Linked DNA regions of Homo sapiens. The protein of the gene in region 5 interacts with the protein of the main gene of each other region in a biochemical or structural test. Each region holds a gene or a part of one and is shown on either strand. Other genes may lie near its edges.

What was found.
Region 1: the proteins of FGA (region 5) and LRP1B form a complex in vitro, tested with the Homo sapiens proteins (one study listed by BioGRID).
Region 2: the proteins of FGA (region 5) and HRG form a complex in vitro, tested with the Homo sapiens proteins (one study listed by BioGRID).
Region 3: the proteins of FGA (region 5) and CDH5 form a complex in vitro, tested with the Homo sapiens proteins (one study listed by BioGRID).
Region 4: of the proteins of FGA (region 5) and KLK6, one has a biochemical effect on the other in vitro, tested with the Homo sapiens proteins (one study listed by IntAct).
Region 6: the proteins of FGA (region 5) and ITGA2B interact in a test that uses a peptide from one of them, tested with the Homo sapiens proteins (one study listed by BioGRID).
Region 7: the proteins of FGA (region 5) and ITGB3 interact in a test that uses a peptide from one of them, tested with the Homo sapiens proteins (one study listed by BioGRID).

What each region holds. Positions count from the first base shown.
Region 1 is NC_000002.12:142,128,217-142,132,196, forward strand, and holds the start of LRP1B (low-density lipoprotein receptor-related protein 1B precursor), read right to left. Parts: upstream 2,801-3,980; 5' UTR 2,625-2,800; coding exon of another isoform or gene 2,514-2,624; coding exon 2,432-2,513; intron 1-2,431. UniProt on the Homo sapiens protein: Potential cell surface proteins that bind and internalize ligands in the process of receptor-mediated endocytosis.
Region 2 is NC_000003.12:186,672,514-186,676,013, forward strand, and holds part of HRG (histidine-rich glycoprotein precursor), read left to right. Parts: intron 1-273; coding exon 274-354; intron 355-2,575; coding exon 2,576-2,677; intron 2,678-3,500. UniProt on the Homo sapiens protein: Plasma glycoprotein that binds a number of ligands such as heme, heparin, heparan sulfate, thrombospondin, plasminogen, and divalent metal ions. Binds heparin and heparin/glycosaminoglycans in a zinc-dependent manner.
Region 3 is NC_000016.10:66,387,191-66,390,690, reverse strand, and holds part of CDH5 (cadherin-5 preproprotein), read right to left. Parts: intron 2,368-3,500; coding exon 2,251-2,367; intron 1,334-2,250; coding exon 1,169-1,333; intron 316-1,168; coding exon of another isoform or gene 289-315; coding exon 101-288; intron 1-100. UniProt on the Homo sapiens protein: Cadherins are calcium-dependent cell adhesion proteins. They preferentially interact with themselves in a homophilic manner in connecting cells; cadherins may thus contribute to the sorting of heterogeneous cell types.
Region 4 is NC_000019.10:50,959,592-50,963,091, forward strand, and holds part of KLK6 (kallikrein-6 isoform A preproprotein), read right to left. Parts: intron 2,290-3,500; coding exon 2,153-2,289; intron 1-2,152. UniProt on the Homo sapiens protein: Serine protease which exhibits a preference for Arg over Lys in the substrate P1 position and for Ser or Pro in the P2 position.
Region 5 is NC_000004.12:154,587,943-154,591,939, forward strand, and holds the start of FGA (fibrinogen alpha chain isoform alpha precursor), read right to left. Parts: upstream 2,801-3,997; 5' UTR 2,746-2,800; coding exon 2,692-2,745; intron 1,621-2,691; coding exon 1,495-1,620; intron 1,035-1,494; coding exon 851-1,034; intron 1-850. UniProt on the Homo sapiens protein: Cleaved by the protease thrombin to yield monomers which, together with fibrinogen beta (FGB) and fibrinogen gamma (FGG), polymerize to form an insoluble fibrin matrix. Fibrin has a major function in hemostasis as one of the primary components of blood clots.
Region 6 is NC_000017.11:44,379,650-44,383,149, forward strand, and holds part of ITGA2B (integrin alpha-IIb preproprotein), read right to left. Parts: intron 1,413-3,500; coding exon 1,230-1,412; intron 997-1,229; coding exon 951-996; intron 842-950; coding exon 737-841; intron 653-736; coding exon 597-652; intron 505-596; coding exon 353-504; intron 166-352; coding exon 40-165; intron 1-39. UniProt on the Homo sapiens protein: Integrin alpha-IIb/beta-3 is a receptor for fibronectin, fibrinogen, plasminogen, prothrombin, thrombospondin and vitronectin. It recognizes the sequence R-G-D in a wide array of ligands.
Region 7 is NC_000017.11:47,256,827-47,260,326, reverse strand, and holds part of ITGB3 (integrin beta-3 precursor), read right to left. Parts: intron 1-3,500. UniProt on the Homo sapiens protein: Integrin alpha-V/beta-3 (ITGAV:ITGB3) is a receptor for cytotactin, fibronectin, laminin, matrix metalloproteinase-2, osteopontin, osteomodulin, prothrombin, thrombospondin, vitronectin and von Willebrand factor.

The DNA.
Region 1 (3,980 bases), on a different chromosome or scaffold from region 5:
AACACAGCTAGAAGGTAATACAAACACTTCTGATATAGTTCATACAGTTTGAGAAGCTACCTATTACACAATAAGTACACGTAGAACCTAAATGTGAATTCTCATTTTTTGTCAAGCAGTTAGCTCTTGCACTACAAAACGCATCTGTATAATTCACATGCCTGTTCTGTTATTCAAGGACGATTGACATAAGCCTGTGCAGAAAGTTACATCTCATTAACCTCTTTCTTGAGTTTATATTCCCATATCTTCTGTTTCAGCATATTAGTGAGGGAAGCTTGTCATAATGCAGTAACACTTTCTTTCTTAACTTTCAACAAGATTTCTCTCTTTAAAATTCCTTTTTCCAAATGGGGCCCATCCTTTTCACTTTTGGTAACTGTGAGAATTTTAGCTCTTTGCTAACAGTTTTGAAAGTGTGTTAAATATATAATAGTGGCAAAGTGCTGGTCTACAATTATTTTTACTTGTGCTATCTGATATAGTACTTCATGTGGACGTGGTGATACAACACGACACTATTTCATTTTTTAGAAAAAAACTAGCAATCGTTTACCATGTGCTCTGCTTCTATCTTAGATGTTCCTCTCCCTCATGAAACTAAATTGGCACCAAATATAATCCTCTTAGTTATTTAATATTCTATCTCAGAAGAAAGTTGTGGGGTCTGTATTTTTTATGTTCTATACAAAATTCTCTTCAGATATTTACTCCAATCATGGTAGCAGTAGTTCTATCCTCATAAATGTATACAAAAGCATTGAGAACTCAGCTTTAGATGAAGTCAAATTTCTGGAGATTGGAGACTCAATCAGGAAGAGCCCAATAGCAGTAGTCTGCCAGTACCATTATATTTTGCTAGCATACTGGGCTGAAAATCTCCATTCTGTTCATCTGCTCTGGTCCAACTTCAAACATTTTTCCTAAGAAAGGTTGAGAGCTGATTGTTCCAGATCAAAGACATCATCATTTCAAGGCGAGCTATGTGCTTCCATTTCATCAGTATAGTTTCCAACCATTCCACACCAACTTCAAGGCAAGTTGAGCAAGTTCAGAAGCTATGGTTAGGTGGCAATGATATGCTTAAAAGATTATCACCAATAAGTGTCAGATTTCCTAAAGGAACTCAGATTAGTCCCACCACTGGTAGAGGAAATAACACGTGTAGGTATGTTACAAAGGCTAGAATCTGGCTGCCAACAGCAGGTTGAATAGAAACACTGCAGTTCATTCCCCTGTTCTTTCCTATAATGAAGCAATATTTTTTGTCAATTCATAATCTGCTTCATGTAAATACAATAACTAAATCTCCCAATGCAACATTCTGCCTATTTGCTTGGCATTGGGATCTGGGTTTCTTTCTCTCTTTCTCTCTCTCTCTCTCTCTCTCTCTCTCTCTCTCTCTCTCTCTCTCTTATTTAAACTAAAAAGCTGAACTATACCAGTCAATATAAGCTCATTTTCTGATTTTAAAAAAATCTATGATACTTCTGATTTTACTTTAACCAGTTAACCATTCCAAGGCCAGGGCCAGTGCCCCAAATATTCATCTAGTATTTTCCTCCCTTTTTCACCAGTGCATCTGTTGTCAAAGATTATTAAACTCGCACAGGGATTCTTGATTTTCCAGATGAAAAGTTTATAGAATCCCGGCTTTTTCTAATTCCTACCTCCTTTCTCCTCTGCTCCCCATATCCATTCCCTTCTAAACTTCTACCATTCACCAGCTGCTTGGAGAAAAAGGAAAAGCAAAGCGCCAGACTGGAGAGAGGCACTCCAGGGGTGGGTTAGCCCCTCAGAGCACCTGGGCTGTGTCACAGACCCTCATAATCGAAAAGTCAATTTCAAGCAGGTGCGTGCGCCCGGAATCGTCCTAAAAGCCTCTCTGCTGATGACAGGACTCTGACCCCAGTCTGCCCCCAGGAAGGGGCTATAGAAACGAAAGGGGCCTGAATCGGCGCTTTCGCCGCTCCACGGACCTCGAATGCAGCAGGTAAGGAAGTTAACCTGGGAGCTAAGTTGAGGGCGGACACGCTTAACGCGGAGAACCTGGAGCTCGCAAAAGCTCGCAGTTGAGGGCCATCGCGGAGGGAAGTCTTTCGGAAATGCGAATTCTCATTCCAACATCTGCAGCGCTTAGAATTCGCGGACAGAAGCGCACAGCCAAGTGCACACACTCCCGGAGGGGACAAAATGGGGACCGGGAAACGGCCAAAGGGAAAAGCTGTGGGGGTGCCGAGGACTCAGGCACTTGGTTCAGAAATCCCGCACCGCACCTCTCACCCCCGCACAGGGCCAGCGCACGGTGGTCACCCGGTCCCGGGGAGCGGAGCTGCAAGGACTTAAGTTTCACACTCACTTATCTGCAAGCATCGCCCAGCAGGAAAGCCAAGGAAGTCAGGGGAGGGGAGCGGGGAGGTGTTCTCCTTACCTCGGTCGGCTCCCACGGTCAGCACCCTGGCAATCGGCAATAATCCCGAGAGAGTGAGTAAGGCGAGGAGAAACTCGGACATTGTGGTCGCCCGGTAAGGAAGCCTGCGCTGGAGACTGCTCGGCGGCACCTTCGGCCCGGCGGCGGCGGCGGCGGCAGGGGCCGCTTGGAGCCTGGAATCGAGCGGCGTCATTTACAAATGTCACTGGAAATTCTTCAGCTCAATGAGTCCAGCCAGTCAGCCTTCTCCTGCCTGGAGCAGGATGTGGAAGGTGGAGGGATGCGCGCGTGCGGGAGAGAGGAGGCAGAGCGTGTGTGAGCGCGAGCGAGACGCCCGTGTGTCTTGACTTTTCAATGCAGGGTACGTCTGATCTTACATCACGCAAGAGGGGCAGTGAGAGATGCCAGCGGATGGGAATTCACTGATTAATCACCGAATCCACCACACACCCCTTCGTCGTTCACATAAATCACATCTATTACTTAATAAGAGGCATTTAACACAACAGGAAAATACCACCGCGAACGGAGAGCGCCACAAATCACAATTATTTTAATCCCCTTGAAGGGAAAGTAACTCGAAGCTGGTTCTGTGGGGATTTGGGTCTTTGGAGAAGGGAGAGACTTCTGCATTGGCCTGAGCCAGCCAGGCGCCTACAATGCTCCGCAGTTCACAGCCAGCTGAGAACCCTCAGCCGAGCACAGGGCTGCTTCTGCAGGCAAAACAAAGCTTCTCCCTTCGTTCCTCGGAAGCTTCCTTCCCGGGAAGGAAGGACAAGCCAAGGAACAGAGCTTCTCTTAGGGAAATGGTTTCCTCGGCTCTACACAGAATCCCAGTACTTCCTGAATTGCACTTTTAACTTTTATGCTGAGCAGCACCTGGGGACAAAGAGGCAAAATTTAGTGACTCAGCAGAAACAGAAAGCAAAACAACCCCCAAAGTCATTAACCGTTGCGTAAGAAGGGAAGGTTAATGGAAAAGGCTATTGAGGTCCCCAGGCAGGGAACAATAAAGCAACGAATTGGCAGCGTTTTTCTCTGGGGTTCTGTCTTTAAAAGGGTACTTCGAGCCATTTTAAACAGGCTTTGAGGGTTTTGTTGTTTTTGTTTTGTGTTTTGTTTTGTTTTCCTTTTCCATATACTACAGGGGCGGTGTAAGAACTTTCCCGAGCCATCGGAGGCATCAACGGGAATCACTGGAATAATAATATTAGTAAAGTTGTTTTTATGACCACTTAAGTTTACAACATGATCATCCCAGTCCCTAAAATTTTAGTTTGCCATTACAAAGTGGCTACGGAATTAAAACTCAGAAATCTTAATAGTTGTAGACTTACTTTCTTCCTTGTAACATCAGGAATTCTCTTCTAAGAACAAGAGTTGAAAAGGTTTTATATTTAATATTTTGAAACTGGACATGAGTGGAGAGGAAAACTATGAGAAGGGAACAGAACTAAGGAAGAGAACGATTGAAAAGTGAAGGAAGATGCTTTAAAAGCTTTATTTACTTTGCTGTTTGAGACTTATAAGTGAATGCCAGCATTACTAT
Region 2 (3,500 bases), on a different chromosome or scaffold from region 5:
AACTCTGGGAAGAAGTTGGAGTGCAGGAGAGGTGATTTTTCACACTCTACTTTATCATATATTTATTATTTGAACCTTTTCAGTGAACTGGTATTCACCTTATCACTTAGGTGATACATTTTTAAAAGGCAGAAACCATTTTAAAAAATGACACATACTGGTGATTTTGAATTCTCATACTGCCTTAAAAAATATTGAATGGTAGTTATCTACTGCTTTTTTTTCCTTTTTCTTTGTCTGTTCTTGAAACTATTTTGATCCCATCTGTTCTAGAGAGGAGGGGAAGGAACTGGTTACTTCGTGGACTTCTCTGTGCGGAACTGCCCCAGACACCATTTCCCCAGACACCCCAATGTGAGTATAAGAAATGTCTGTGATCGTTGACTAGAGTCACAGAGAAAAAAGAAAGAGAAGAAGGAGAAGGAGAAGGAGAAGGAGAGGAAGGAGAAGAAGGAGAAGAGGAATGAGAAGGAGAAAATGAGGAGGAGGAGAAGGAGGAAGAAATGTCTGTGAAATACAAAGTATCATCTGGGAAGCACTTAGTACCTGCCAGGCACTCTTCTAAGTGATTTACACATCAGATAACTTATTGTTTTGTTTTGTTTTTGAGATGGAGTTTCGCTCTTGTTGCCCAGGTTGGAGTGCAATGGCACAGTGTCGGCTCACTGCAACCTCCGCCTCCCGGGTTCAGGCGATTCTCCTGCCTCAGCCTCCGGAGTAACTGGGATTACAGGCATGCACCACCACGCCCAGCTAATTTTTGTATTTTTAGTAGAGATGGGGTTTCACCATGTTGATCAGGTTGGTCTCAAACTCCTTATCTCAGGTGTCCACCCACTTCGGCTGGGATTACAAATCAAAGTGCTGGGGTTACAGGCGCAAGCCACCATGCCCAGCCTATGATAACTTATTAACCCTCACACTACCATATGAGATAGATACCATTTTTAATCCCAAATTAGCAGATAGGGGAACTGAGGCACAGAGAACATAAGCGAACCATAAGAACATGATTTTATAATATACATGATATATACCTAAACTTAAAACTAAGTTTCTAACTGATTAGGATTAAAGGCTTAGTTAGAACTATAGCAGTTCGTACTAAGACCCTACGCCAAGTGGTTTTATTAATTCCACATCATCACACTCACAGGAATCCCACTTGACAAATGAGGAGGTAACTGAAAATCAGCAAAGGAAAGGTCTTGCCGATGTTCACAACCAAGCTGAGATTAAAACTTAGTTATTCTCATACAAAGTCCAGTGGGATTTTTCCTCTAATCATTTACAAATAGATTCCCATGTACCTGCCAGAAGACATTATTAATACCACCTGGCATTTGCATGGTGACCTACAGTTAAAGAAACACCTCCACATCTGTTATTGCCAGGAGAGCCTCATGAAAATCCTGCTGACAAGGAAAAGCAAGTATCTGCCTACATTTCCTGTGACAAGGGGACCTGAAATTAAAACCACTTACCTAAAGGCACTTAGCTAGAGAGTGTTAGGAAATGGAATTTTAATTATGATGCCAAGTCCAGGATTTTTCTGAGGTTTAACAACACATTCTCCCTGGTCAAAAGGGAGAAACCATCCATTAGTACCTTTGTTAGCTCTTCTAATGTCCACACTGAACCAGGTCTAGAAACCTTCTTAGCGCCCACCAGAAAAGACACCTCCCTCCCCTACTCCTATGGCCAACAAACCCTTCATGATCTTGGTGTGGATAATGTAAACCCAGAGTTGAAGCACCAGAGCTGAAGAGGAGGCTCAGGGGTAAGTGTTTTACAGCATCCTCTTGTTTAATTAATCCCTCCCACAACCTGTGAGTACATAGTATTATCCCCATTTTACAATGGCTGACTTTCAGAAATCTTTTGTAACTTTCCCAAACTCAGACAACTAGGAAATGGAGAAGCCAGGATTAACATAGGTCTCTCTGATTCCCAAACTGTACTCAGAACCTCAATGCTTAGCAATTTCTTCTAGCAGACAGCCGTCCTCTTGTCCTAGTCGATCTTTCACAGGTGGGTTTAGGAGCATCTGGAGCACAGGAGTGGCAGCCAGTTGTAGCCCTGGCACTTGGGTGGAGTCAGCAGACACTTGCCTTGACAATGTCCATGAAAACCCATCTTTATGCTATACAGATGCCCTCCTGTCCAACACTTTCCTCCAAGGGACCAGCTGAAGTTGTAAAAATCCCTCTTTGACACCATTCCTCATTGTCCTAGGCACAGGCAACTGAGGTCTCCAGTGCAGAAGGGTTGGCCTAAAGGCAAGGCAGCAATGATGTGGTTTTCCTCATCATTTCCATCACCCATGGGGAAGCCCAGTGCTGGTGCCTGCTCATGAAAAAAACCACAGCAACTTTAGTGATACCCTTCACCACCTGCACTTTCCCCAAAGTGTTAACAAGGAAAGATTGCTGAACGACTGGTGGGAATATCTGATCATATTACCCTGATTTTTCTAAAGCACTTCTTCCTTTTCTGAATGTCTGGAAGCTAACTCTGGCTGGTCATCTTCACACCACCTGGACACACACACTAACAGCTCCTCATTCCTTTGTAGGTCTTTGGATTCTGCAGAGCAGATTTGTTCTATGATGTAGAAGCCTTGGACTTGGAAAGCCCGAAAAACCTTGTCATAAACTGTGAAGTCTTCGACCCTCAGGTGGGTTGTCTAAGCAGACTTTGTCATGGCAGTGCCAGATTAAGTGACATACGTACACAAATAGTGTTGTTGCTTCCTAAAGCTCTATGAGTGGGTGTGTGTGTGTGTGTGTGTGTGTGAGAGAGAGAGAGAGAGAGAGAGACAGAGACAGAGACAGAGAGAGGGAGACAGGGAGAGAGAGAAAGAGAGAGACAGACAGACATGCAAGAAAAAAGATACAGAGAGTATCCCACAACTGGGGAAAGGAGTGCAATTGCCAGATTACACAAAAAGTATGAAAACTTTTCCAAGAATTGAAGAGGGGTAACAATTGGCAGAAAATTAAAATCATGTCCAATTCAACCAAACTTGAAGGAATTTGAAAATGCTCTTTGTAGTCGGGACTCTAGTGCTGAGACTTAGTCATTCCTAAGCTTATATTATTGGGCATAGAATCTAAGAGGAATATATCAGCCTCAAATTTATTATGTAAATGTATATAAAATAAGATGCAAAACCATATTTTGCATCTGTCTCAGAAATCTTTGGTCTATTTTTTACATGAGTACAAAGATTTGCTTCACGAAATTTTTCATATCAGAAACAAAACTTAAAATAATCCAAACATCCAATCCCAAGTTAAAAAAAAGAAAAAGGAACAAAGGGCAGGATTGTCACCATGAACATGGCTCTGTCTTTTTTTTTTTTTTTTTTTTTGAGAAGGAGTTTTGCTCTTATTGCCCAGGCTGGAATACAATGGTGCCATCTCGGCTCACCACAACCTCTGCCTCCTGGGTTCAAGCGATTCTCCTGCCTCAGCCTCCTGAGTAGCTAGGATTACAGG
Region 3 (3,500 bases), on a different chromosome or scaffold from region 5:
CTTTGATGGTCTCTGGCCCAGGAGCAATCCCCAAGCAGGACCTGTGGGTGCCAAGAGCCCCAAGCCTCACGTTTGACATTGTTGCCATTGGCCTACAAACCTTCATGGGCTTGATGATGCCCTCGTTGTGGGCGGGGTTTGTCTCAATGGTGAAAGCGTCCTGGTAGTCGCCCCGCAAGATGCTGTACTTGGTCATCCGGTTCTGGGGCTCATCTGGGTCCTCAACAAACAGAGAGCCCACAGAGGTGCCCACACGGGTGTCTTCAGGCACGACAAATGTGTACTTGGCTGATGCAAACAGAGCACCCCAAAGGGCTTTGGGTTAATGAGATAGACAAGGCGATTGCCTCTTTCAGCTATTCTAACATATTTTGATAAAAGAAATGGGCATAATAAAATAATCATAAATAATAATACCCCTGGGATTCTCAAGGTAAAGAGGGTCTTCCCTATCTGTATGTCCATCCATCCATCCCTCCATCCAATAAATAGCTATTGAGCACCTATTGTATGCCAGGCACTTTGCTAGGGGACCTATCAATGGACAAGAGAGACAAGTCCTGCCTTCAGGGAGCTTATGCCATGTACGAGGAAGCCACTTCAGGACAATTGGCCTGTCTCTAGGGTGGCTGAACAACTGAATGACAGTATCAGCACTGGGAGTTGCAAGTGGAGAGCCATCTGCCCCAGGCATGGGAAAAGCTCTCATTAGACATTCTCTGTGGGGTGGATCAGTGTGTAGGTGGGGTCAGGGCCCAGCCCTGGCTCTGGATATAGAACTTTGCTGTCCCCATGTTCACTGGCTTGTGGGAATTTCTAGCTGGGACCTGAGTCTCAGGGCTTTGATTTTCCCAAGCCCATGGGATCTGGGTGAAACTGCTTGTGTCTCATGGTGGGACACAGTACAGTGGTGGCACCCAGCAGGGAGTGGGATTTCCCTCTGGCCTATGAGGGGATTGTGGCAGGGGGCGGCAGGATGGCCTTGGGAATGTGGTATTGGGATGGAAGCAGGGCCCCTCCCTTCACCCAAAGGACTCCTTTGGGCATCAGGCCTACCCTGGGATAGAGGGAGAGGTAAAGTGATTTGTAACTCTTTTCCCAGAGCCCCAAGTCACTGAGTCTGGGGTATCCCAGCCCCCCTTCCCAGGGCCCTAGAGGAGGGGCTCACTCTGGGTGAAGAAGGGGAAGTTGTCATTGATGTCTTGCAGAGTGACCAGCACGGTGGCCGTGCCCGAGTCCCCCCGGAGGCCCTGGGCATCTCGCGCTTCCACCACGATCTCATACCTGGCCTGCTTCTCTCGGTCCAAGCTTTTCGTTATTGTGATAATACGTCCTGCAAAAAGATTCCCAGCAGGAACCATGTTACCAGCTTCTAGAAAATACCGATGCCTAGGGCCTGCCCAGAGAGAACCTGACTTAAGAGCTTCCCTGGTGATTCCACTGTGCAAATGGGGCTGAGAACTGTGAGTCTACAACCCACTACCTCCATAGCCTATACTGTGAGGCCAAAGCTGGCCCAATAGTTGGGTTCGGTATTGGTCCTCGCCACCTGAAATATTGTGTTGACAAAGACCATGAGGCCATATCTAGGCTCAGATGGAAAGAGTGCTGTGATAGATTAGTGATGTCTGCCTTGGTGCACTGTAGCATAGTAGTGGCATCTGTGCTATGTATTTGCCATCTCTCTGAAAGACAGTTCCACTGGACTTCTTTCTTGCTCCCAAGAGTCAGTCCTTATATTTTTTGTTAAGTCATCACATAAGCAATTACTATGGGCCTTGCTGCCTTTATACATGATCTAACTCAAACTTTACAGCTACCATACGATATAAATATAAGCATTCCTACCTCCTAGATGAGGGAACTAAGGCTTGCAGAAGTTAGTTGATTTGTCCAAGGTCTCTAGAGGGGGTGAGTGGCAGAGCTGGCTTTGGAAACCAGATCTGTCTGAACCTGCACCCAGAGCGGCTAGCCACCATCCTCTGCTGCCCCTTGGCCACTTCTTGGGTAACAAGATCCTGATTTTGTTCCCTGGACTTGAGTCCACCTCTTGGGCACCTGCCTGCTTCCTTCTCCCTTGACCAGCCGCCTTGTCTTTACATATGATACTGACTACTTCCATGGTACAGTGTGGTTCAGTAGCTAGTGACACCTGTCAGACTGGACTTCCCTTAGCACATGCACCTGGAGTATCCACCTCCCCTTGTCCCTCCAAATCAGTGACTGTCCAGGAGTGTTAGTCACACAGACCAGAATTATCGATGGCAAAATACTCTTTCCCCTTCAGGATTTGGTACATGACAGAGGCGTGGTCTCCCACAGTGGGGTCGTCTGCATCCACTGCTGTCACAGAGATGACTGAGGTCCCTGCAGAGAGAGAATCCTGGGGTTGCTGACTTGTGACTGCTAGGCCCCTTACCCCATTCCTGGAACAGAGCAGATGGGGCTCAGGCTGTGCTCTGTCCCCACCTCCCCCAGGTCCTGGGAATAAAAGGCTGTTTTGTTTTCTGAGGAGCCTGCATGGGGGCAAAGTGCTGGTGGCAGTGGGGGCCCAGCCAGGTCAACCTTGAAGGGGTCAAAGAGATCAGGTGGTTTGTGTGCTTCCTGGGGAAATGAGGGAGGGGGCGGAGGGTTGGGGTCAGGGAGAGAAATGGAGGACAGCAATGAGCTGCTTCTCCCTCTCCTGGAAAGGTGCCCCCAAAGGAGTGGTGTCATTTCTTGCATCCCCTTGAACTCCAGGATCTCACACTCAACCCGAAGGTCTGGTCCCAGGGCCCTGGCTGGAGACTCTGGACTGAAGAGGGAAGCTCTTTTCTGGCACCCTCTGGAGTCTGAGGTGTACTGAAGAGGTGGAGTAGTAACCTCCTGAGCCCAGAGCCCAGGCTGGTGACATACCTTGGGGCTAGTGCTCTGTCCCCCACACCACTCCTGCATGGCCCCTAGAGATGAATCCTTTTGCCTTAGTGGCAGGCCATGACAGTCGTCACATGTAAAGGCTACACTCTTGGTGTGCTAGTCCTGACAGTCAGAGGAAGTGAGTGAAGTTTGTTCCAAAGAGTAGTGAGATATGCCTCTGATGGCCAGGGGTGAGTTCATGATCAAAATCAGGGCACAGTCTATGACTAGGGTCAGGACTCAGTCCATGATCAGAATCAGGGCTCAGTCTATGACTAGGGGCAGGGCTCAGTCCATGATCAGGATCAGGGCTAAGTTTATGACTAGGGTCAGGGCTCAGTCCACGATCAGGATCAGGGCTTGGTCTGTGACCAGTGTCAGGGTTCAACCCATGATCAGGATCAGGGCTCAGTCCAGGATCAGGATCAGGGCCAAGTTTATGACTGTAGTCAGGGCTCAGTCCATGATTAGGATCAGGGCTTGGTCTATGACTAGGGTCAGAGCTCAGCCTGTGGCCAGATCAGAGCTTGTTAGGAACTAGAGTTTCTTTCAAATCATGTAAAGTGGCAACACAGGCATTACAATCACTACCCTGAACTCACTGG
Region 4 (3,500 bases), on a different chromosome or scaffold from region 5:
AGAGCAAGAAAGAGAAACAATTTAAGAATGGAGACTGAGAGGTGTGGAGAGAGGCAGAGGTGTAGAGACCGATGGAGAGAGAGGAGGAGGAAGAGGAGAAGGAGGAGGAAGAGGAGAAGGAGAGGAGGAAGAGGAGGAGGAAGAGGAGGAGGAGGAAGAGGAGGAGGAAGAGGAGAAGGAGGAGGAGGAGGAAGAGGAGGAGGAAGAGGAGAAGGAGGAGGAGGAAGAGGAGGAGGAAGAGGAGAAGAAGGAGGAAGAAGAGGAGGAGGAAGAGGAGGAGGAGGAAGAGGAGGAGGAGGAAGAGGAGGAGGAGAAGGAAGAGGAGGAGAAGAGGAGGAAAAGGAGGAGGAGGAAAAGGGGGAGGAGGAAGAGGAGGAGGAGGAAGAGGAGAACGAGGAGGAGGAAGAGGAGAAGGAAGAGGAGAAGGAGGAGGAGGAGGGGGAAGACGAGGAGGAGGAGGGAGAGGAGGGGGGAGGAGGAGGGGGAGGAGGAGGGGGAGGAGGATGGGGAGGGGGAGGAGGATGGAGAGGGGGAGGAGGATGGGGAGGGGGAGGAGGGGGAGGAGGAGACGATAAGACCCAGGTGGGAGAGGTAGGGAGGGCCCAGGGAGAGATATGCCTGGCACTATTCTGTCCAGGGACACCTCTCCACCTCGTGTCTTGAGGACAGTCTCGCCCACCTGCCCTTTCTTTGCGTCCAACTTGCTATGTATCGCTTTCCCTGTCTCTGTCCCTGTTTCTGCCTGTGTCTCCGTTTCTGCCTGTGTCTCCCCCTTGGTTGGTCTCTGCACATCCCTCAGTGCATTAGTCATTCTGGCATAAAGAGGAGAGCCTGGATGGATGACAATGGAGGAAACCCAAGTTAAAGTATTCGGGAGGGAGTCCCCTTTCCCCAGCTAGTGTCTCCCTCCTCCAGAGCCTGGTCGTTTCTGAGCAGGACTCGTGGGGGCTCTGTTTGAGGAAGGACAGTCCCCTCACACCATCTGCTTCCTTACTACTTCTCTTTGGTTCTTTTTGTTTTTAGACAGAGTCTGGCTCTGTCCCCAGGCTGGAGTGCAGTGGCGTGATCTCAGCTCACTGCAGCCTCTGCCTCCTGGGTTTAAGCAATTCTCCAGCCTCAGCCTCCCGAGTAGCTGGGACTACAGGTGTGTCCCACCATGCTTGCGTAATTTTTGTTTTTTGGTTTTTTTTTGAGACGGAATCTTGCTCTGTTGCCAGGCTGGAGTGCAGTAGCATGATCTCGACTCACTGCAACAACCTCCGCCTCCAGGTTCAAGTGATTCTCCTGCCACAGCCTCCTGAGTAGCTGGGACTACAGGCGCCTGCCACCACGCCCAGCTAATTTTTGTATTTTTAGTAGAGATGAGGTTTCCCCATATCGGCCAGGCTGGTCTCAATCTCTTGACCTGGTTATTCACCCACCTCGGCCTCCCAAGGTGCTGGGATTACAGGCATGAGCCACTGTGCCCATCCTAATTTTTGTATTTTTAGTAGAGATAGGGTTTCACCATGTTGATCAGGCTGGTCTCGAACTCCTGACCCCAGGTGATCCTCCTGCTTCGGCCTCCCAAGGTGCTGGGATTACAGGCATGAGCCACTGTGCCCATCCTAATTTTTGTATTTTTAGTAGAGATAGGGTTTCACCATGTTGATCAGGCTGGTCTCGAACTCCTGACCCCAGGTGATCCTCCTGCTTCGGCCTCCCAAGGTGCTGGGATTACAGGCATGAGCCACTGTGCCCATCCTAATTTTTGTATTTTTAGTAGAGATAGGGTTTCACCATGTTGATCAGGCTGGTCTCGAACTCCTGACCCTAGGTGATCCTCCTGCTTCGGCCTCCCAAAGTGCCGGGATTACAGGCATGAGCCGCTGCTCCTGGCCTCTCTGGTTCTTGATCCCGCGGCCTCCATCCTTGTCTCTGCACTTCCTGTCTCTGCTGGCTGTGTCTTTATATCTCTGCATATCCCTGACTGTGTCTCTGTGTGTTGAACTAAGTCTCTTCTTTTCAAGGCTTGGGTTCTCCCTCAGCCTGTCTCTATCTGTCTCTGTAAAGCTCTCTTTTGGCCTGTGTCTCTCTCTTCCTGTGTCTGGCCATGTTTTTGTGACTTCGTCCTGTCCCTGGCTGTGTAAGTGGCAGATCCGGGTCACCTCACCTGGCAGGAATCCTTCCCGTACTTCTCATCCCCAGCACACAACATGTTCTGGGTGATCTGGCCAGGGTAGGCATGCTCACACTCCTCACGGGACACCAGGTGGATGTATGCACACTGGATGGTGTCAGGGAAATCACCTGTTAGGGGAGAGATGGGCCAGACTCAGCCCAGGCCTTGCACTCCCCTCATCCTCCCCAGTCACCCCCCAACCCCTATAAGTCCTCCATCCTCTATTGGTCCCTCTTTTCTATTGGCACCCCTCTTCCTGTTTGTCTCTCATTCTTACATCTCATTACCATCGTCCCTGCCTCCTAATTGGTCCCTCTTTCTATCATTCTTCCCCCCCATTGGCTGTCTTCCTCATTAATAGTCTCTTCTCCAGGAGTCCTCATTTCCTATTGGTTTTCCTTTTCTCTTAGGTCCCTCCTCCACTTTTCTCTCTTCCACTGGTCCCACCTTCTTCAGTAGTTTCAGTTGACCTGGAGGACTCTTCCTCTGTTACGCCCTCCTCTACTGTACCCCTCCTGATCAGTAGTCCATTCTTCATTGGACACTTCCTGCCCATTGATTCATCTTGATTGGTCACTCTGTGACCATTGGTCTTTTCCTAACTGGCCATGCCCTCTCCCATTGGTTCTTCCTTTCTATTGGTTCTTCATCCAATGGTCCACCTCCATCATTGGTCCTTTTCTAACTGTCCCCACCCTCCCTCATGGATCCTCCCTTTCTATTGGCCCTTCCTCCAATGGTCTACCTTCCTCATTGGTCCTTTCCTAACTGGCCCTGCCCTCCCTCATTGGCTCTCTCTTCCTATTGGTCTGCTTCCCTCCTTGGTCCTTTTCTAACTGGCCTCACCATCCCCCACTGGCTCTCCCTTCCTATTAGCCCTTCATCCAATGGTCCACCTCCCTCATTGGTCCTTTTCTAACTTGCCGCATCCTCCCCCATTGTCTCTGCCTTCCCACTGGCCCTTCATCCAATGGTTCACCTTTCTTATTGGCCCTTCACACACAGGCCCACCTTCATGGATCCTGCTGATCTATTGGACCTGTTTTTTCCTCTAGTGACTCCTCTGGACCATTGATCCTTTCCCCTTAGTCCCTCTTCCATCAGCTATACCCCCATTCACTGTCTCAATTCACATCCTTCAGTTGGCTTTTGTGCTTTATTGGTTTCTCTTCTTCCATCAGTTCCTTCTCCATTATTCCTTCCTGCTGTTCAATGAATCCTGATCAGTCCCCTTTGACCTTTGACATCCTTCCTGATTAGCATCTCCCCACTGACCTTCCCTCTTTATTGAACCTTCATCTTATGTTCCATCTCTCCCATGCTATTCACCCATTGGTCT
Region 5 (3,997 bases):
AAGATGTCCTAATAGCAATTAGTAATCCCAAAGAAATATAGAAGAAGAACTTTCTTTGGAATTTTAAAGGTGTAATTTGGAGTTAAAATAGTTGGTTTGATTGCATTTCAATTATTTTATAACATCCTTAATCAAGGGACTTGAACATATTGGATTTTCTTACTGATGAGCTTTTCTTTTTAATCTATAGATTTGAAATGGTTCCTAAGCTGTTTTGGGTCAACAGGATCACTCACTTGCCAGCTAGTGTTGCATCACTGATTTTAAATGTCAAGTGTTTGTGAAGGTGTAAAAAGGCAAAGCAAAACTTGAGAAACTGAGGACTCCCTAGACTCGCTGTCCATGCCCAGAGTGAATGCAATGTTTCCTAACCCTAATGAGTAGACTGTGAGAATGACGTAGCTTGACCCTATATTTTAAATTTAAAAATCTACCTAATCAGCTCAGTGGAGTCTGGGAGTTGAATTCCCAGCTCTGTGTCTTTGAACAAGTTCCTTGACCTCTCAGTTTTCACCTTTACAAAGCAGAAACAAAAATATCAACTCAAAGAGTCTGACCCATCCTACTTTCAGTATATACTGTTGAAAAGAACACATTTAAATTCTTGTTTTTAATCCAAAATTCTGACTTATTTTGTGACCTTAAACAATCTCAGTTAACATCTTTTACTTTGAAAAAATAACGAAAACAAAAGCTCCCTCTTAAAATTTTCAGGGATATTATGAAGGTATGTGTTTCTACACTAAGTACTTTGGGATGAAATTGTCATAGATATAAGCGGATATCATATTTATTTAGGATTTTTGTTGTTTCTGTTATAAAGTCAAAGCAGTAAATATGTAATACTTACTATTGGCTGAGGAAAAATCGCCTCTCAAAATTTCCATTATATTAGTGGTCAACGAATGAGAATCCTTATTGTTCTTCTGATATTCAAATAGTGAATTTTTGAGCTTATTTATTCTGTTTGTAAAATCTTGATTGACTTCATCAATCAACCCTTTCATCCTGCAGCCAGAAGGGCATTTGTAGTTCTGAAAGTGAAGGGAGAAAATTACAGTAAGGATCTATCTCTCAGATTCAGAATAATTTTGCATGTTTCCATGCAGCCCCCATTTCTTCCTACCCTATCTCTTCCAGATAAGTTGGCTTAAAAGTAGGTAAGAGGACTAGTTAGAGGTCGCAGAGAAACTCTGGAATGAGGGTCCACTTAGCCATAAATTAGGTGCCAGGAAATTGAGGCCACAATACTCAGGAGCCTGGTTTTGCCTGAGCATGCAACTGAAATCCTGTCTGTTCACCCACTAATGATCCAGAGTTGGGGAGGTAAATAAACAGTGCTCTTGGGAGTAGGTTCCTTTTCTTTATTTGCTATGTAGGTAACTATTCAATTATTTTCTATTTAAAAAAGTTTCTGGGACCAATCAGGTCAGCCTGTGAGCCCCTCTAGCATCAGAGGGAAGGAATCTCCTGCTTCCCCCGCTGACTGCTTACCCAGTCTTCATCAGAGCAGAAGGGCCAGTCTGAATCTTTGCAGGCAGATTGATGTCTTTCCACAACCCTTGGGCCACGCACGCCTCCTCCTTCAGCTAGAAAGTCACCTTCACCACTATCTGCAGTCTTTAAAGATTCATTCACATACACAAAAGAGAGCAACAGCAATGTTAGCCAGAAGAGGAGACAGTGGCATGCCTACAAGTCCCCAGGAAGAGATGGCACTCTCACAGAGATTAAGGAGAGCAGACACAGGGCTTCGGCAAGCTTCAGGTTTCTTATCTTCAAATGGAAATCCTAGGACCCATTTTATGGAGTTGTTATGAGAATTAAAGGAGACAAGGTGTACAAATTTCTTAACTGTGTGTGACACTTAAATAAGCATTTGATAAATATTAGGAGTTTTAAAGAATCCATCCTAAAAGGAAAATTATTTGAATCTATAAAATCAGTTAAATTTTACCTTTTCATTTTTACTAATGACTGCAGACAGAAAGTTGAAAACTACTGTAGAGCTCTTTCTCCTGTAATTGCTGCTTCAGTAGAAAAACCTAGACTATCTTAACTGAATGTTCCTCTCTCCTTCAAGTTTCTATGTAACCTTTAGAGATGGATTCATAATTTAAAAGAATACCATTACTGCGGAAAAGCGTATTGCCTTACTAACTAATCTCTTCTGATACTGCAAAGATATTTCCAAAGATAATTCGTTTGCTTTTTCTTCTGTCTTGACAAACACAACAATAACCTTTCAGCAAAACTGTACTAACACTAAAAGTTCTGCTTATTATGGACAAGTAGCAAGAAATTAATAACTAAAGAAAACAAATCTTACCATAAAATGTTTTATTCCATTAACTAGCATTATAATGCACCAAGGCTTTATAGGTACAAGGATGGCAAATAATTCTTGCCCTTTTTAAAACAAAACAAAACAAAATGTGGTAAGACTGAATGACAGATGCTAAAGTTTCCCTTGTGAGTTTGTACACTCTCATCCATCTAAGATCTTCCTCTTGGTGTCATATTACCCTGTATTCTTGAGGTGTCAAGCCCACCCAGGAAATTTCCTCCCAGGCCTGGGGTCATAAAGCTAAGAGTGTGTCAGGACATAGAGCAGGTAGACTCTGACCTCCAGGCTCTTTGTGGAATAAACACCAGAGAGAAAGCAAGAAGAAAAAATGAAAAGGGCCATACCCATGCTGTGCCCACCACACTTAGGACCAGGCAGACGATCCTCATGGAAAACATCTTTTCTAAGGGTGGGGCTGGCTCCTGAGGAGCACTCCAGCTGAAAGAAAGGATTGCTGCCACTCCTAGTTCCCATCCTATTTAAATCTGCAAGAGGTTTGGTTAATCATTGGCTTTGTCCTGTGTAGACAGTCAACCCTCCCTCTACGTCCTTTGTTCCTCCTATGCTGTTGGTATCCCAGAAATTCTTGCTCAATTCCCCTCAGCTTGTTTGCTTCCGATAAGCTGTTGCAAAGGTAGCATTTGATTCTCCAGTCAACAATTAGGAGATCTCACATTCCAGGAACAGGGTGGCTTTGAGAATGAAAAGAGGAGCATAGGAGGGTATATCCATATTTCTAAACGTGAAAGAATATAGAAGGTGCTTAGGTAAGCTAGCTGTAGCCCCCAGTAGTAGTGATTTAGCAAACAATATTTCACTTTATGCAGAAATTAGGGTTGGGTGATCTGGCTTATAAAAAAAATAACTTTGGGGATAAGCTGGCCCTGAAGGCTTTCTATAAGTTTATTTAGAACATATTACTTTTCTCTATTTAAAATATTAAGATGACAGCAGCCCCAGGAACAAAACATCTTGGGTTCATAATCCAAGCTGCACCACTTCCCTGCTCTATGTTCTTGGACAAGTTACTTTACCTCTTTATACTTCAGTTTCCTCATTTATAAAATAAGGATGCTGATAAGCTACCCCATGCTTTTATGAAGAATAAATGAGTTAATTCTTGTAAATCTCTCAGAACAGTGACTGTCACATAGGAAATACTCAGTGAATTATGGGAGATCATAAAGTGCCATGAAAAATACCATTTATTTCCTGTTTCTGTGCTAGCAATCTCATTTCTGAGTGTATTTCCAAAGGAAATGAAATCAGGATCTTGAAGAGACACCTGCATTCCCATGTTCATTGTAGCTATATTGACAATAGCCGAGATATGAAAACAACCTGTTTCCACTGATGGATGAGTAGATAAAGAAAATGTGTATATATATATATACACAATGGAGTATTACTCAGCCTTGAAAAAGAAGGAAATTCTGTCATTTGCAGTAACATTGATGAACCTAGAGGGCATTATCCTAAGTGAAATGAGCAGATATAGACAGACAAATACTGCTTAGCTGGTCGTGGTGACAGGCACCTGTAATCCCAGCTACTCAGGAGGCTGAGGCAGGGAGAATCACTTGAACGCGGGAGGTGGAGGAGGTTGCAGTGAGCCGAGATTGCATCATTGCACTCCAGCCTGGGCCACAG
Region 6 (3,500 bases), on a different chromosome or scaffold from region 5:
GGTCCTGCACCTCCCTGGCCTGTCCCTGCCTGTCCCTACCTGCTCCTGCACATGGGTGTCTCCATGCAGCACGACAGCAGGGGCCATTCCAGCCTCCGTGGGCGGTAGGGACACATTGAGGCTGAGCACAATGGGGCTCAGCTTGTCCCGGAAGTCTGCCTCATCCTAGGACAGGGGCAAGAGTCAGGCCATCTTGCTACCATACACATCCCACCTTCTCCTGGCCAGTAGGCACCGTGTCCTGACCACCCCCGGACTCACAGCACCCAGCTCAGTGCCCCAGGGCTAGATGAACAAGTCCAGTGGGTAAGTTCTACTCTCCCAGCCCTGCCAATCCCCTGCCTGGGCGTACTCGAAGGAAGGCCATGGTGGTGTGGCAGATGGGGCTGTGCTTTCCGCCCAGATCCAGGTTCAGGGTGGTGCCTGCCTGTTGAGAGCCCAGCAGCAGCACCCGCCGGCCCTGGCGGGGCTTCTGCCGGTCCAGCTGCAGCTCGGCATTTAGGGCTGGCAGGGCAAGCAGAAGAGTCAGGACCTCCCTGGCCAGCCTCCGGGGGAGTCCAAGCCCACCTCCCTCCTGCCCCCTTCATGCCACTCACATAGCTTCTGAGGAATGTTGTGCCCAGTGGCTCCAACACACATCTGGATGTTGAAGCTGCAAAGACGTAAGTGGGGCTCAGGGGTTGGAGCCTTTCTGAGGTCCCAGATCCTTTAAGGCCCATGCCCTCTGCCTCCTCACCAGCTCACGGGTGTCTTGGTCTGAGGTAGGACACAGCTCTTCACAGCAGGATTCAGTGAATCTTGCACCAGTAGCTGGACAGAGGCCTTCACCACTGGCTGAGCTCTGATGGGATAGGGTGATGGGGTAGGCTTGCCATTGTGGCTCCTCCTGGCCTGGCCTCCTCTTGATGGCACAGGACCTTCCCCATCCCGCCCCTGGAGCCAGTGCTCACCTGTACACAGCCACCTGGTTGGCCCCGTAAGCTCCCACGATCAGGTCTATAGACATCGAGGAATGGGTCAGAATTGGCGATTAGGGCATGGGATCCTCATCTCATCTTCCCAGGGGTTCCCCACACCACCTCCCCCACTGGAGGTTTCACCCAGCCCCTCTGGCAGTCCATAGTGGGACACCAGGCCAGGCATGAGCCCCTGGCCGTGTCTCTTGGCACTTCCAGCGAATGTCCAAGGGCCTTTCTTGGGCATTTCTAGCTGGAGGCAGTCCAGGGCACCTGGGTATCCGTTGTCATCGATGTCTACGGCACCTCGAAGGGAGAAGCCAAAGGCAGAGCCTGTGGGGAAGGGGCTGTCCAGGACCTGGGAGGGACGTGACCTCAGCCCCTCACTCTGACCCAGGAACACCAGCACTTGGCCCCGGCCACTGGGACCCCCGTAGGGGGCAGCCACTGCAATGTCTGGAAGGAGTAACAGAAAGGAAGTGGCTGATTGTTATTCAGCCTCCCTAGATGACTGTAAAACTTTCCTGAGCTTCTCTGGGAACATCCCAGGAGACTAGGAAAGGGGTGCAAAGTGTGGGTGAAGGAGGCACTGCCCTACCCTCCAGGAGTTAACAATCAGGTGGGAGAGGGACCTGCCAAGTAGGATTGTTATAAAAACAGTGACAACTCTCACTGTCTATTGAGGAAAATATATCCTGAAAATTAAGCATCATTATTCCCTTTTCTAAATTTTTTTTTTTTTGAGATGGAGTCTCGCTCTGTTGTCCTGGCTGGAGTGCAGTGGTGCGATCTCGGCTCACTGCAACCTCTGCCTCCCCCGTTAAAGTGATTCTTGTGCCTCAGCCTCTTCAGTAGCTGGGATTACAGGCGCCTACCACCATGCCCGGCTAATTTTTGTATTTTCAGTAGAGACGGGGTTTCACCACATTGGCCAGGCTGATCTCGAACTCCTGACCTCAAGTGATCTGCCCACCTTGGGCTCCCAAAGTGCTGGGATTACAGGTGTGAGCCACCGTGCCCAAGCCCCTTTTAAAATTTTTTTATTTTTAAGACAGTCTTGCACTGTCATTCAGGCTGAAGTGCAGTGGTGCAACCATGGCTTACTGCAGCCTCAACCTTCTGGACTAAAGCAATCCTCCCACCTCAGCTTCCCAAGCAGTTGAGACTATAGCCACCATGCCCAGCTAATTTTTAAAAATTTTTATGGAGACGAGATCTCCCTATGTTGGCCAGGCTGGTGTCAAACTCCTAGGCTCCAGTGATCCTCCTGCCTCGGCCTCCCAAAGTGCTGGGATTCCAGGTGTGAGCCACCGTGCCTGGCCATCTAGCATCTATTTCTAGCCTTCTCCATTCCATCAAACTCCCAGACCCCCCACACTTCCTTCAGCAGGTGACGTAATCTCTTACTTCAGGAAGAGAGGCAGCCCACTGTTATGCTATAATCCCACACCAACTTTCTTTTCCCTTTCCCCATTTGACCCTGGAAGAGGTTTCCTTCCTTCACCCTGACACTGGGCCAGTCACCCTCCCACCCCCTGAGGCATCACAGGGACTCTCTGCTGGCTCATCCCCCCATTTCCCCACAACATCATTTTCAACCTACTACATGTTCTTCCACATTGAAATAATCTTCCCTTGACCCTCATCTCTTTTCTGTGATCACCTTTTCTCTTTTTCCTCTTATAGTCAAACATGTTTTTTTTTTTCCTTTCTATTCCTCAAATTCCTTTTTACCACAAACCTGTTGAAAGAGCTGTCTACATTAGCTGCATCCAATTTTTCATCTCCATTCATACCTTACCCCATTGCATTCTGGCTTCTGACCCTATCTTGGCCTGAATCAATTTATGTCACTGTCACCAATAACCTCCCCTTCTTTTTTCTTTCTTCCTTTCTTTCTCTATTTTTTTTTTTATTTTGTTGAGATGGAGTCTTGCTCTGTCACCCAGGCTGGAGTGCAGTAGTGGCGCAAGCTCAGCTCAGTGCAACCTCCACTTCCCGGGTTCAAGAGATTCTCCTGCTTCAATTTCCCAAGTAGCTGGGATTACAGGTATGAGCCACCATGCCTGGCACCCTCTTCTTGCTAAAGCCCATGAATATTTCTCCAGCCCCACCTAATTGTATCTTGCAGCAGCAGCAGGAGCTGCAGCGCCCACTTCCTCCTGTGCATGCTCTTTAACGCATGCTCTTCCTTGAGTCCCGGGCCATCAGACCCCCTGGGTTCCCTCCTCCCTCTCTGGACACTCCTCTGTCTCCTTCTCAGACTTACCTCCTGTAGGAGTCACCTAAATGCTTTTGCTCCCTAGGGCTCTATCCTGGGCCTCTTATTTCACAGGTCCCGGGACCTCATCCACTTTCCCCAAACCCCTGTCTCCCATTCAGATCTCTCTTGTGGAAGCGGGGAGAGCCACTCCCAACTGTTCTTTGGATATTTCCGCCTAAAGCACCCAAGCCCTTCAAGCTCAACAGGTCCAGAGCTGAACTGCTGATCTCCCGCCTCTCCCCAGCACCTGCTGCACGGCCTGAGTTCCAGGCAGTGGAGGC
Region 7 (3,500 bases), on a different chromosome or scaffold from region 5:
AAATTGAAGTATTTCCCTTCATCTTCTCTGTCCCACTTTGCAGCCCCTGGGACACCAAGAGACTGATGCCTAAAGGTAAAGTCACTTGTTCAAAGTCACCCAGCAAGCTGATGAAAAAGCCTGCAGAACTGTGAATCGAATGTAGGTTTCTTAATTCCAGATACGTTGTTCTTTCCACACTGAGCTTTTTTCTATATAAAAGGAAGTACTATATATCATGGGTTTAAGTAAAGGAATACACACACACACACAAATAAACATAAATGCGAGGGGAAATGTCTAAACAGAACACACCACCTGATTAATATGAACATTATAGGGGAATAGAATTAGAAGGGAACCAGCAATTTTAACGACTGACAATGATCCTATGTGGATGAACCTATTTGAGAAATAACAATATTTGTTTTGTTTTGTTCTGTTTTTTGAGACAGAGTTTTGCTCTTGTTGCTCAGGCTGGAGTGCAATGGCACAATCTCGGCTCACTGCAACCTCTGCCTCCTGGGTTCAAGCGATTCTCCTGCCTCAGCCTCCCGAGTAGCTGGGATTACAGACGCATGCCACCATGCCCAGCTGATTTTGTATTTTTAGTAGAGACAGGGTTTCTCCATGTTGGTCAGGCTGGTCTTGAACTCCTGACCTCAGGTGATCCGCCCGCCTCGGCCTCCCAAAGTGCTGGGATTACAGGCATGAGCCACCGCGCCCAGCCAAGAAATAACAATATTTGTTATTTTGACTTTTTTAAAATGTGTATCACCTTGTTCTTTTTCTTTCTCTCCTTGAATATTTAAACATCTTCACTAACTGAACTAAGAAATTGAACTAACTCAACTATAAAACCGAGAGAGGGGGGTAAGTAAATAGTCTTTTCATGGGAACATGACAGAAAAACAGAAATAAGACATCTAGTGTTAGATCTAGTGTTAGAATTTGTCTAGCAAGCTTTCTGGTTTTGGCCAAAAAGCCACCCACCCACCCACCCTCCCAAAAAAAAGGAAAAAAAAAAAGTCAAGTGGGTTGTTTTTTCAGAGATGCTACCAAAAATGTAAAAAGGTAGAATAGCCCCCAGGTTTACTTAACAACTTCTGACTCCAAGCATCATGACATACAATATTTGGCCACAAAATATCTGTTACTCCTATGAGCAAGAATAATAAGTGTTGGTTGCTACAGAATCCTCTCTAGTATCCTGAAGTCTTTAACTACTTAGCACATGGAAAATCTAATGACTTATATATAGCTAAATACATCTATCCAATTATAAAATTTAGAAGCTGAAAGCTGGGGAGCACCTCCAAAGTTTAACGGATCCAGTCCCACTGCTTTCAGGGTAACTGTTCCAACACGGAGGATGACGGAGTGGCCTCAGACAATGTCTTAGAGTTACTGATAGATGCAGCATCATAGATTAACCCCAAATGTATTGTGCTAAGTGAAAGAAGCCAGACTGAAAGTCTATACACTGCATGCTTTCATTTATATGACATTTTGTAAAACATAGAACTGCAGGGACAGGAAATAGATCAGCAGTTGCAACCGACGAGGGTTGAGGGTAGGGTATCGATTACAAAAGAGCTGGGGGGGCACCTGGCACAGTAGCTCACGCCTGTAATCCCAACACTTTGGGAGGCCGAGGTGGGCAGATTGCCTGAGCTCAGAAGTTCGAGACCAGCCTGGGCAATATGGTGAGACCCTGCCTCTAGAAAGAAAAAGAAGGGAAAAAAAGAGCTTGGGGGAATTTTAGGGGATGATGGAAAAATTCTGTATCTTGATGATGGCAATGGTTACTTGACTATATGCATTTGTCAAAATTCATAGAACTGTATGCACTAAAAAGGGTGAATTTTACTGTACATAAATTATACCTGAATTATCTAACAAAAAAAAAAAAAGAGTGTTTTTGGTGAGACTGTGTGTGTGGACAGAAAGGCAGATGCTATCACTTTTTTGCTGGAGAGTCTCACGTTTCAATAAATGCCAGCAGTTCCCACACGGGGAATAGGCAGTTCCCCTAAACAGAGTCATTTCCCTGCTCCCACCTTCATTTCCACTAGTGGCCTGAGCTCCATCAGGCACAATGAAGGTCCCACTCAGGAAGGGCCAAGGTTCAGGAAGAGGGAGCAGAGGCGATGGGGTGGAGCAGCCCACTCTGTGGGCAGCAGAGAGGGCTGGGTAAAACGAAGCGGTTCATCCCTGAAGCTGCTCAGTCACTCCCTCGGTTAATTATCTGTCTTCTGATTCATGAGTTGTGGTTCCTGTGGGCATGCTTCCTGGAGATTTCTGCCAACAAGGGAAGAAGGGTTCTTGGGACTGGGAGGGGATGATAACCTCAGATCCCAAGTAGGGTGGGGAGCTTTAGAGGAGAAATTTCGATCAGGAAATTCTAAAGTCATAGCCAGACTCCCCCTCCTCACTGTGGTGTGCTTGCCCCATCTTATGGTCTTCCCAGGAGACCTCTGTCACTCCTCACCCTTGCCCCAACACCCACACGTCCAAGGGGGAGAAAGGAGAATGTTGCCCTTCTAACGGCTCCTCCCAGGAGGGAAAAAAAGGCAGACACTTTACAGAGGATCCCTTGAGTTTTTCACACTCTCAGATCACAGGTCTAAATGGTGCAACAGTGCAGCGGCCCAAATGCCCAAAGAATTCATGATCTTGGCTATGTTTTCATACCCTCCAGATTATCCAAACGGAGCACTTGAGGATCTTGTATGAATGAGTGCAAATATTCAAATATTGGGTTTCTTAAAGGGAGGCACATCATCTATAGATGCCTTTACATAGCATTCCACAGATATTTGTTTTGCTGCCTATGTGCCAGGCAGTGGGCATAGAGTATTGAACAAAATAGACATGTCCCTCTTCTCATGGAACTTGAAGTCTTATAGATCCTTTTATCTTCCTCTTTTTTCAGATACAGGGCTTGAGGTTTTCTTATGGGTAAAGCAAATGTATAAGCCTTTTTCCTTCTTGGCTTCTTCTGTGGATTCTTGCCGGGTTAGAGTAGCTGAGATATGCCAAACCAGCAATGAGGAACGAGTTGAAATAAGAGGGACCCCCTCTCACATATGTGGGGGAAAGGGACCCCATCAGTTTCATTCTGGAAGCCTGCATAGCGCATATGCATGAAGTAGTAACAGCTTTTGCCTCCAATACATGGCAGATAGCATGGATAGGAAGAATAATGACAATAGTAGTTGTCATTCATTAAACACTTATTTTGTGCCTCTGTTTCATTTAATCAGCATAATCATAGGCATTGTTTCCTCTGCCTTACAAATGAGGAAACTGAGGACTCAAGAGATTAGGTAACTTATTTAAGGCCACACAGCCTACAGGAGACAAAGTCAAGAATCAAACCCACATCTTACTGGCTTTAAACCATAGCCCTCCCTTTCCGAAGCCAACAAGCCTTCCTGCTGTGTTTCTCCAGGACCTGAGGATACCTGCAGAGGGCTTCGATTGGAGAGCTTCTAGGATATAAACTCCAGAAGAGAAAT